Linked DNA regions of Homo sapiens. The protein of the gene in region 2 purifies or fractionates together with the protein of the main gene of each other region. This does not show direct contact. Each region holds a gene or a part of one and is shown on either strand. Other genes may lie near its edges.

What was found.
Region 1: the proteins of AKIRIN2 (region 2) and TOMM34 purify together in Homo sapiens (affinity purification with mass spectrometry; 2 studies listed by BioGRID and IntAct, with this or other methods). This does not show direct contact.
Region 3: the proteins of AKIRIN2 (region 2) and RGPD3 purify together in Homo sapiens (affinity purification with mass spectrometry; 2 studies listed by BioGRID and IntAct, with this or other methods). This does not show direct contact.

The regions. Positions count from the first base shown.
Region 1 is NC_000020.11:44,958,182-44,961,933, forward strand, and holds the start of TOMM34 (mitochondrial import receptor subunit TOM34), read right to left. Parts: upstream 2,217-3,752; 5' UTR 2,153-2,216; coding exon 2,026-2,152; intron 1,357-2,025; exon of another isoform or gene 156-1,356; intron 127-155; exon of another isoform or gene 112-126; coding exon of another isoform or gene 63-111; intron 1-62. UniProt on the Homo sapiens protein: Plays a role in the import of cytosolically synthesized preproteins into mitochondria. Binds the mature portion of precursor proteins. Interacts with cellular components, and possesses weak ATPase activity.
Region 2 is NC_000006.12:87,692,231-87,695,882, forward strand, and holds part of AKIRIN2 (akirin-2), read right to left. Parts: intron 1-3,652. UniProt on the Homo sapiens protein: Molecular adapter that acts as a bridge between a variety of multiprotein complexes, and which is involved in embryonic development, immunity, myogenesis and brain development.
Region 3 is NC_000002.12:106,461,783-106,465,434, forward strand, and holds part of RGPD3 (ranBP2-like and GRIP domain-containing protein 3), read right to left. Parts: intron 1-3,652.

The DNA.
Region 1 (3,752 bases), on a different chromosome or scaffold from region 2:
ATTTTATGTCTATTAAAGCATTTCCTAAGAGGCATCATATTGCCTATCCTTCTGCAACTTACTTTTTTCACTCAGTATCCTGTTGCCATGTTGATATTTGATATCTTTCATTCAATACCAACAATAACAAGCGTTTTCCCCTCTTGTTTTGCCAGGCCCAGAGACGGAAAGTACAAAGACTAGTAAAATACATCCTTGCCCTTAAGGAGCTAAGTACCCAAAACCTGTAATCCATCTTGAGTCACCAGAGTACGGTTGCTCAGAAACAGCAGTGGTGCGGTGGAAAGGGCATCAACCCTGCGATCCGGACAAGTCACTCCATCCCTCTGATCATGCGTGCCCACCTACCACATGAGGATATCACTTCATAGACTTGCTGGAAGGGTTCATTGTGTTAGCCTGTTCCCTGAGCTCTCTTCGTGATCAAGAAGACTGATCAGATAAATCAAGAGACTTGCCCAAAATTACCTAGGAAATCTGTAGCAGCAGCAGAACCAAACTCCGGTCCTTGCTAAATCTAGATACCAGGCTAGCTTTTCTATGGACCCAGAATTAACCCATACAAATGTACAAGCTTTTCCAGACCAGCTGGGGTGAGATGAATGAAAATGGCAGCAACATCAATACCTCAGCTTCTTCAGCAACTTCATCAAGTAAGGCTGCCATGAGGAAGTGGGCCTAAAGGAGAGTTTTCTAGAACAAAGAAGGGGGCAAAGGAGTGGCTTGAAACTGCAAAAAGTGCAGACAAAAAAAAAAAAAAAAAGAATGAAATCTGGAGAGGATGTGAGGAGAGGTCTAGCAAAATGATTAAAAATTTGGACTTAGCATCAAAGTCAAACAGATCCATATTCAAATCGTGGCTCTTCCATGTCTTCACTATGTAACCCCGAGGGAGCCAATTTAACTCTCTTGGACTCCTCCTTTCTAAGCATTTTATCCACAGGGCCATAATAAAGATCAAAGGAGATCGTGTCTAAAATGTCTAGCACATGGTAAATCACTCAAGAGATGCTAGCCAAGAAAAGGAAAAAAAGGAAGGCGGCAAAGGGAAATAGGTACTGAACGGTGACTCACAGAAACCAGGATCCAAGGCTCCTTTCAAAAGTCAAGGCTTTAACCAATGAGGGTTTCTGATTAAGTCACCCTGGAGAAGGGGCTTTGGGCAAAGGTCTGCGGTATGCTGACGAAAGCTGGACGCTGGGAGAACTGGTAAGAATATGCTATTCTTCTGTTTCAAACTCTCCAGTAGCTTCCCATCCAGCAGCTTTCATGCCAAGCTTCCAGTTTGGCATGAAATCCGAACTCCTTAGCAGAGTTTACAACACCTCCACAATAAATAAGGGTCTGCCTTCCTAACTGACCTCATGTCTTCCTATTCCCTGCCCTGGCTCACTATGCTTTGACCCCTGAAACACACCATGTTTATATCGTCTTGGAGGGGGGGCCTTTCTCATTGCAGTTCACTTCAGGACCGAAAACCTTGTGCGCTTGGCTTCTCATCATTTAGACATCACCTCAAATATCACTTCTTTACAGATGTTGCCCTTGATCTCCCACTCCAGTCAACTCTATCACATCACCCTATTTGTCTTCTTCCTAACCCTGATTATCCCACAGGTCTCGTTTACTTACTGACTCGCTTAAGACTCACGTCCTCCCCACCGCCCCCACAAGAATGCGCTGTCCTTGAGAGAAGGGACTTTTTGTGTCTTGTTACACAGGCGGTATATAACAGCTACTCAACAAATACTAACTGAAAAATGAATTGCTGCGGGGGAGGAGGGTTTAGCTTTCTTCTCAGGGCTCAGAACGAGGCCTAAATAACTTAGGATGGGGGCCAACAGGGCAGTTAACAAGCAGGTGGAAAGAAAGGGCCGAGGAAGTTTCTGGTAGGATGCCGGAGTCGGAAGGGGCTGGAAGGGTGGGAGGGCCGGGCAGGACTGCTGGCCGCCGCGCGAGGCCCGGGCGGTGGTTGCGGGAGTTGGAGGAGCAGGCCCGGAGGTGAGATGGGGGCCGGGGTCGTACCTTGCGCCTGCAGCACCCGCAGCGCGCGGCCGTAGAGCGCGGAGGCCTCGGCGTACTGGCCGTTGCGGAAACTCTCATTGCCGGCGGCGCGGAGCTCCTCCACAGAGTCTGGGAATTTGGGGGCCATCCCGTGGCCAGGCCGGCGAGTTGGGAGCTCCTTCCTTCCTCCCCCGTGTGGTGCGGCACACCTTCCGGGCGCAAGCGCCGGCGGCGAATATCTCCGCCCAACAGCGAACCCGCGGCGAGGGGGCGGGGCCTGCGAGACCTGGAGGCCCGGAGCGTCCCGCCCTCTGCGCGTGCTCGGTTTGGAACTTAGGCTCCCTTGCACGCGGGGCGGCAGCATGCTCTGGGCTCCCTGAGTTGCTAGAACGCCGTGGATGACGCAGGGAAGGAGGCTGGCCCCGCTATCAGGGAGATTATGTCCTAGTGGGGTCCCCACAGGCAATTAACTGATAAGCAAACGAAGACTCTCATTTCATGTGATTAGTGCTGTAAGGAAAACAAAACAGGATAATGCAATGGAAAGTGACCACGTGTGGGCTATTTTAAATAAGGGGATGAAGGAAGGCCTTTCTCAGGGGGTAATAGTTGAGCTGAGACCAGACAAGATTTAGGGAATGCTGTTCCAGCCAGAGGGATGGTAAGTGCAAAGGTTCCAAGGCTAGAAAGTACCTGGTACCTAGTGCTCTATAGATATTTATTTAATAAATTAATGCACAGGTGGATTGATGGTGTCAAAGTCAACATATAGAGATGAATCTCTAAAGTTTAAATATTTTATTTGGCAATCAAGAATTGCAATTCAGGGCTTACACACAGACCAGGTTGTCTTTGGTATGTCAGAAGAACAAAGAGAAGGTTTGGAGATTTTTATAAAACAGAAATGTTACATATTGCTCTTCAAGGAAGTTTACAGGCACTAGTAAAGTGGGGGTTTATCAGCTTCTTGGGGAGCTGGCAAGCTTTGATTGGTAAGTGATAGTGGTGGATAAAACTCAGAATTGTAGCAGGCTGTTTCAGTAGCTATTAGATAAAACTGGTTTTAGGTTACAGCAGGCAGTTTTAGCAGCCAGGCTTGCAAAAAATTACTTTTTTGGAGCAATGTTATATGCCCTGAGTATTTGTTCCCCTGGCTTTTCAATTCTGTCTTAGTTGGATATGACAAGAATGACCCAATTCGTATGATCAGCTTTCAGAATGGATGAAGATCTTTCACAGAGTGTGACTTCAATTTATCTCCAGCCTCATCTGACGACTCTATGTCCCACGCATTGCTATCTACACACACTAAATTCTTGCTTCCTAGCCTTTGCTTGTTATCTCCTTCTCCTGGATTTTTTTTTCTAAATACTTTTTCTCCTGCCTAATCCTGAATTAACTTATAACATTCCATTCAAACATCATCTTCTCTGAAAGCCTTTCCTGCTTCCAGCCCCCTCCCCACCCCCCACTATGCTCCCTTTGCTCCCTATTGGTCTCTAGCTTTATCCCTAACTTTGCATTAGTCACCCTTTGATTGCCAGTTTGTAGTTTTCCTTAAACACTGCGAGGTCTTTAATGGCAGGAAGTGGGTCCTTTTTATCTTTGTTTATCCAAGACCCTAATAGGGTCTGGCATCCAATAAAAGTCATTGATTGATAAAGATCTAGTCTCTACCTTCAGGAATTCAGTTATAATGATCTGCATACACTTAACTCCACCAGACTATAAGCTTTCTGAGGGCTGGA
Region 2 (3,652 bases):
GAGTAAAAGTCCCATTTGAGGTTGCCTTCTTGAGACCATTTCCATCACTTGGCCAGTAAATGCTCTTAATTCTCACAACCCTAAGAGGCATATGCTACTATCATCATGTGCACATTTCCTGAGATGAGAAAAATGAGGCTCTGCTTCAGTGTCTTCTGCAATGTCACACGGCTTGAACATGGCAGAGCCAGGTTTGACCTCAGGGCCCAAGTTCTTAACATCTACTACCCTCTCCAGTAGTACATTACTACACTTAATCAAAATTCTATTAGCATTTAATGTTAAAATAAATCACAATGGGCTGGGCGCGGTGGCTCATGCCTGTAATCCCAGCACTTTGGGAGACAGAGGTGGGCAGATCACCTGAGGTCAGGAGTTCAAGACCAGCTTGGCCAACATGGCAAAACCCTGTCTCTACTAAAAATACAAAAATTAGCTGGGTGTGGCGGCGCACGCCTGTAATCCCCGCTACTCAGAAGGCTAAGGCAGGAGAATCGCTTGAACCCAGGAGGCAGATTGCAGTGAGCCGAGATCGTGCCACTGCACTCCAGCCTGGGTGACAGAGTAAGACTCTTGTCTCAAAAATAAATAAATATCACAACGAGGAAAGTTAATTTTTAGAAAACAGGAGTTAGAATAGACATCAGTACTATGCATAATTTATACTTTCATACACTGAAACTTCAAAAAATGGGATTGTCAAGAAGGCAATAACTGGTCGGGCGCAGTGGCTCACGCCTGTAATCCCAGCACTTTGGGAGGCTGTGGTGGTCGGATCAACGAGGTCAGGAGATCAAGACCATCCTGGCTAACATGGTGAAACCTCATCTCTACTAAAAATACAAAAAAGTAGCCGGGTATGATGGTGGGCACCTGTGGTCCCAGCTACTCGGGAGGCTGAGGCAGGAGAATCACTTGAACCCAGAAGGCAGAGGTTGCAGTGAGCGGAGACTGCGCCACTGCACTCCAACCTGGGCGACAGAGTGAGACTCCATCTCAAAAAAAGAAAAAGGCAATAACCAAAATGAAGCATAACTCTCATCTAATGAGACCCCTGAAACAGCAATGACTAGCTATAAAAAAAAATTGTAACACCTCTTCATGTTACATCCAGAAATGTATATAAGGGATGCTTCAAGACTCTAAAATGCCTCATCTTAGGACAGGTATTTATATCTAGCCAGAATGCTTTATTGGTGTTTTAAAAGTTAAGAAATGGCCGGGCGCGGTGGCTCACGCCTGTAATCCCAGCACTGTGGCAGGCCCAGACGGGCGGATCACGAGGTCAGGAGTTCAAGATCAGCCTGACCAACATGGTGAAACCCTGTCTCTACTAAAAATACAATTAGCCAGGTGTGGCAGTGCGCACCTGTAATCCCAGTTACTCAGGAGGCTAAGGCAGGAGAATCGCTTGACCCCAGGAGGCAGAGGTTGCAGTGAGCTGAGATTGCGCCACTGCACTCCAGCCTGGGCGACAGACTGTGACTCTGTCTCAAAAAAAAAAAAAAAAAAGTGAAGAATTATTCCAAGTTGATAGGTCAGTATTTCCACACATGTACAACTAATTACAATGCCAGGCTCTGATAATGCACTATTTTACCCTGGGCTATGAAAGATTGTCACAGTGAACATCAAGTCCCCCTCTCTATCATAGCAACTAAAATCTTCTATACTTTAAATCAAGTATACCACTTAGAAAAGTTCTTCTAGATAATCATATTTTAGTAGGAGGAACAAGACAATCTCCTATCATAATTAAAAGGCACAGTTCAGGGGGACAGTAATGTTTGAAAAATTGGCTTTCTTCAAACTTCACTGTACATTCTACTCTTCATTTACTCATCAGTTCAACAAAAATAAACAAAAGAAAAATCCAAGTCCCTCTCTCAAACCATTCCAACTAGTTTGATTTTTTTGAGGGAGTTTTACAAGAATTAACATTAACAGAAATGAAAATGAATGCTAACCAAAGTGAGAATACACATCATATACTGACACAATTTCAGAAACTTAGTAAACAAGCCTTAACACTTTAAGGAAAAAAACTGTTTCAAAAGTGATTTAATCAGTAAACCAATTTCAATATTTAGGCTATCAAAGGGGAAATGAATACTAATGTGGAAAAATATTAATAAGAAATGAAAATAGGTATACTGATAAAGCATAAAGTGCTAGCTAATAAAGTATCAACAGTGGCTGCTCTATCATCAGTCTCTCAAGAGAGACTCTTACTCTTCTTTGCCTAGCCAGTGCAGTATCTAGAACTCAAATGAGGTTCATAAGGGTTCGAACAAGTGACTTCTAGAAGAAGAATTTAAATGTTTTAATAATGTTAAGAAATCCAGGTACATCAAAAGACCTAAAAAGTCAAATCCAGAAGTTGTATTTAATGGAAAGATTACAATGTTAATAAAATCACAATAGCCACTAGTACATCTCAAGATGATCTGCCTGTGACACTTGTGACAGATAAAAACTAAAGGGAAAAAAAGCTACACCCCAAGACAAACTAAAAGTATATTATTATGAGCTGCTTTCTTAGTGCTAGAAAGTTTACCACCCAACAAAGCCTACCATCACAAGAAATATTACAAAAATTGTTATACTGTAAAATCCTCATCACCAAAAATATTACAAAATCTATTATACTGTAAAATTCTGATTAATAGGCCCAAAATAAATATCAAAGCTGAAAAACTAACATCCACTAGAATTTTAAATTACCTGCAGGGATTCCCTGCTTAATATAGATACAATATCATCTCATGTGAGAAACTTGCTATAACAAATAATTCAATTTCTTTGGAAATAAATCACAACTTCTTATTAAAAAGTATTTTCTTCTAAAAATCCTGTGAAACCCTTTAAAATGTTTCTTCCAATGAGCAAATACCTGATAATAGAAAAATTCTTATACATGGGGCTACTTAAAATATTGTAATTCATGTAATCCATGTTCTCATCATTATCCAGAAAAATGAAGAGAGAAATATACTTAAAGTTCCTCAGAAAAGTATTATTCAAAGTCTTAAACTAATTGCAGTATTTATTACGACTCGTTGGAGTCACATTTTTTGTCAAAAATGTTACACATTATGACAATGTCATAGAACAGTCTAAAAAGAAAATTTGGTACAGAATTACAGGGTAAAACTGAAATTACATTTTTTTCCAACCATAGCAACTCTAAGAACCTTGGGAAATGTCAAGACTTAAGATGCCTGATAGTTTTGTATAGGCTTAAATAAATATTTTCTCTCATACCTTTTTAAAAGCAGGCGGTGCTCTCAAAGGCAAGAAATTCCCTGTAGTTTCACATATATAGAGAACGTTCTTTGAATCAACAGTGCTAGGCATAGGGTTAACACAAGGACTACAGAGACTACAAATTGCTGGTTAACTAATTCAGTGATAGGTACTTGAAAATACCTACTCCCACTCCTAATACCATTATCTAGTTTCATGAACCAACTATTCAAGAGGCCCAAACTTAACCCATGCTATTACTTCACATTCTTCTTTTATAAAGAGAAAAATCTCTTTTCAAATAGGAAAGATACTCACAACTGGGCACTTCCACTGAAGCTTTTATTCTCAATCTTTCAAAACGAAAGCTTTCTATCACTGTCTTTCTAGATCTATCAAAACACTT
Region 3 (3,652 bases), on a different chromosome or scaffold from region 2:
GCTAACACCTGCAATCCCAGCACTGGCAACAGAGCAAGACTCCATCTCAAAAAAAAAAAGAACTATAGCAATCTTAACAAAAATAATACACAACAGTCAGGACAGCACGTAAAAGAACAAGGCTTGTTCCCCCCTTCCTTTTTTTTTTTGAGATGGAGTCTTGCTCTGTCACCAGGCTGGAGTGCGGTGGCTCGATCTCAGCTCACTGCAACCTCTGCCTCCCAGGTACAAGCTGGGACTACAGGCGCACACCACCATGCCCAGCTAATTTTTGTATTTTCAGTAGAGATGGGGTTTCACCATGTTGGCCAGATGGTGTCGCTCTCTCGACCTTGTAATCTGACTTCCTCCGCCTCCCAAGGTGCTGGGATTACAGGCGTCAGCCACGGAGCCCGGCCAGTTCCCCCTTTTCAAAATGAAGAAATAGATTCAAGGTACAATGCCAAAACATAATAGAAAAATAATTCCATTACCTTCTTTGCTTCCAACTATGTTATTAAAGTAGACAATCTTAAGATAATTAAACAACTTTACAAATTATTCTTCTGTATGATCTTTTGCCTCTAACCTGCTCACTTTACAAGGGAACTGAAGCTCAAGCAGGCAAATGCCTTGTTTAAAGATATATAGCTAGGAAGGAGCACAGCCCATGTTATGTAAACAGGACAATATCTGATTCAAGCAGTACTTCTTTGCATGACAGCAGATGTCACTATAAGCAAATACCTGAATTCACTTAAGCTGCCAAATATCAAGAACTGATGCAGGGCTGAAAACAGGAACAGTAAGACCCTAAGAGATGCCACATCATCGCTATCTTGCACAGTAAGATAGAGATGTAATTGTAATTGTCCAAAACTTAACATTTGTGGCCTACTTTTTCATTATGCAGTTCTGAATTTCTCTTTTTTTTTAAATTCAAACGGAGTCTCGCTCTGTCACCCATCTTGCACAGTCAAATGAATCTCCCTCCCCCTAAAATCCTCCAAAAAAGCTGCTGTTCTCAACAAACCCATCTGATCAGCTCCAAATCTGTGGAGTCCCAACAAGGGTGAAGGCCGTGATTATACAGGACAATGAGGAAAAGTCTAGATACTGAACCATGAGTTCCCCAATCTTCTTCCCCTGGAACATAAGGGTAAGGAAATCTCTCAAAAGGCAGAACAAACAAAAGAGGAGAATAAGAGAAAAATTAGAGAAACTCCAGCTTTCAGGTAAACATCATTAAAAAAAAGGGTAAGAAATGGTCAAAGAAATAATACAAGAAATGCTACAGAACTGAAAGAAATGAGTTTCCCAATTGAAAGGACACTTTCAGAAAACCTTTGTTACCAAGAACAAGAATCTCATCAGACTCCTAACAACAGAACTTCTAGAAAATGGAGCAATGCTTTCAAAATTGCGAAAAAAATTATTTCAAACTCAGAATTCGATAACCAAATGATCAACTAAATTAAGTAAAGACATTTTAAAGACATACCATTAGTTTCCAGACCAGCCTGACCAGTATGGTGAAATCCCATCTCTACTAAAAATAGAAAAAATTAGCCGGGCATGGTGGCGCACACCTGTAATCCCACTACTCAGGAGGCTGAGGCAGGAGAATCACTTGAACCCGGGAGGCGGAGGTTGTGGTGAGCTGAGACCATGCCACTGCACTCCAGCCTGGGCAACAGAGCAAGACTCTGTCCCAAAACAAAAACAAACAAAAAAACCTCTCATCCACTTTTCCTCAAAGCAAGTGAGACTATGCTACACCAAAACAAAGAAAGTAAATGAAGATGACATGAGATACAAGAAACAAAGGGTCTAACTCAGAAAAAAGATGAAGGGAATTCTCAAACTGGTGATAAAGGGAAGTCCCAAGAGCACAGCTGTGTAGCAAAGAGGAAGAAAACCCAATCCAGGTTGGAGAAGTCGGTTAGTAAGGGTATTCCAGGTAGACAATCAATCAATCAATCAATGTTTTAAGCTGAAATTGAACGGATTATGTGACCAGTTTGACCACATTTGAGGGTTTAAGTTGCTGAGTTTAAGTAAGCAAGTAGTAACACAACATACAAGCAAACCAAAAAATAAAGCAATTATTCAGTCCAGGAAAAACAAAACTGCACAACAAGGGCAATTCAAATGCAAAATATTTACCTTATATTTATATAAATGTTAAATATTCATTTAAACAAAAACTGCAATAACAGTACTGAAAGAATGAGGGGCAAACCAAAGTGTCTGAGGACAGTTTTGGAGGAGCATAATAGCCAGTACAGAATGTCTAAAATGGGGCCCGGCGCGGTGGCTCACGCCTGTAATCCCGGCACTTTGGGAGGCTGAGGCAGGCGGATCATGAGGTCAGGAGATCGAGACTATCCTGGCTAACACGGTGAAACCCCGTCTCTACTAAAAACACTAAAAAATTAGCCGGGTGTTGTGGCGGGTGCCCGTAGTCCCAGCTACAGGCTGGGGCAGGAGAATGGTGTGAACCCGGGAGGCAGAGTTTGCAGTGAGCCGAGATCGCGCCACTGCACTCCAGCCTGGACGATAGAGCGAGACTCCATCTCAAAAAAAAAAAAAAAAGAAAAGAAAATGTCTAAAATGGGAGAAAGGGAATTAAAAATAACAAAAGTATATATGTGTGTTACTCAGAAGTATGAAGTATAGATGTAAAGGGCAGAAAAAACAACTAACAGCTGTCAAAGGTGCCTGCCTGTAGTCCTAAGTACTCAGGAAACAGAGGTAGGAGGATCATTTATGCCCAAAAATTTGATGAGCAACACAGCAAGACCCTATTCTAAAAAAAATATAAATAAAAATAAGAGCTGTCAAGTAGACTTTGAGAAGTAGGAATCAGCTGCAGAATAAGAAACCGACTTGACAGAACATAGAAAAACTAAACAGAAGCCATCTGGAAAAAGAAAAACTAGAGAAAAAATTATATATTTTTTTCTTTTTTTCTTTTTTGGAGACAGAGTCTCGCTCTGTCACACAGGCTGGAGTGCAGTGGTGCAATCTCTGCTCACCACAACCTCTGCCTCCAGGGTTCAAGCAATTCTCCTGTCTCAGCCTACCGAGTAGGTGGGACTACAGGCGCTGCCACCACGCCCGGCTCATTTTTGTATTTTTAATAGAGATGGATTTTCACCATATTGGTCAGGCTGGTCTCTCGGCCTCCCAGAGTGCTCAGATTACAGACGAAGAATATTTTTAAGAAGGGCAAAAGCACATGTGAGGGAGTAGAAAAATGGCAAAACAAGAGGAGACTAACAAATGAAAGCACAATGGAAGACTAGAAAGATATGATATACAGACGCATCATCACACTCCAAAACTCCGACATTCTAGAAAGCATGGGCAGTTCACAGATGGCCAGCCTCTGCCAAACTGGGGGAGAATACTAACCTCTTCATATTCTTCACAGCCACTGCCTCTTCTCCCTCCATTCTTTACCTTCTATCCAAAGCACCCTGTTTTGTCATTTCACTCAAACCTAACTTCACAGAATAGCTTCACATGTTCCAAAGTTACTCACTAGTTAATCCATATTCCGCTGAAATCCCCAGGTTCTAATGTAAATGACTTTCAATTTGGGGGAAAAAAAGACTCTAAGTGTAAGAGAGGTGGTCATAATAACCAATCGTCAAAATCTTGCCACCAC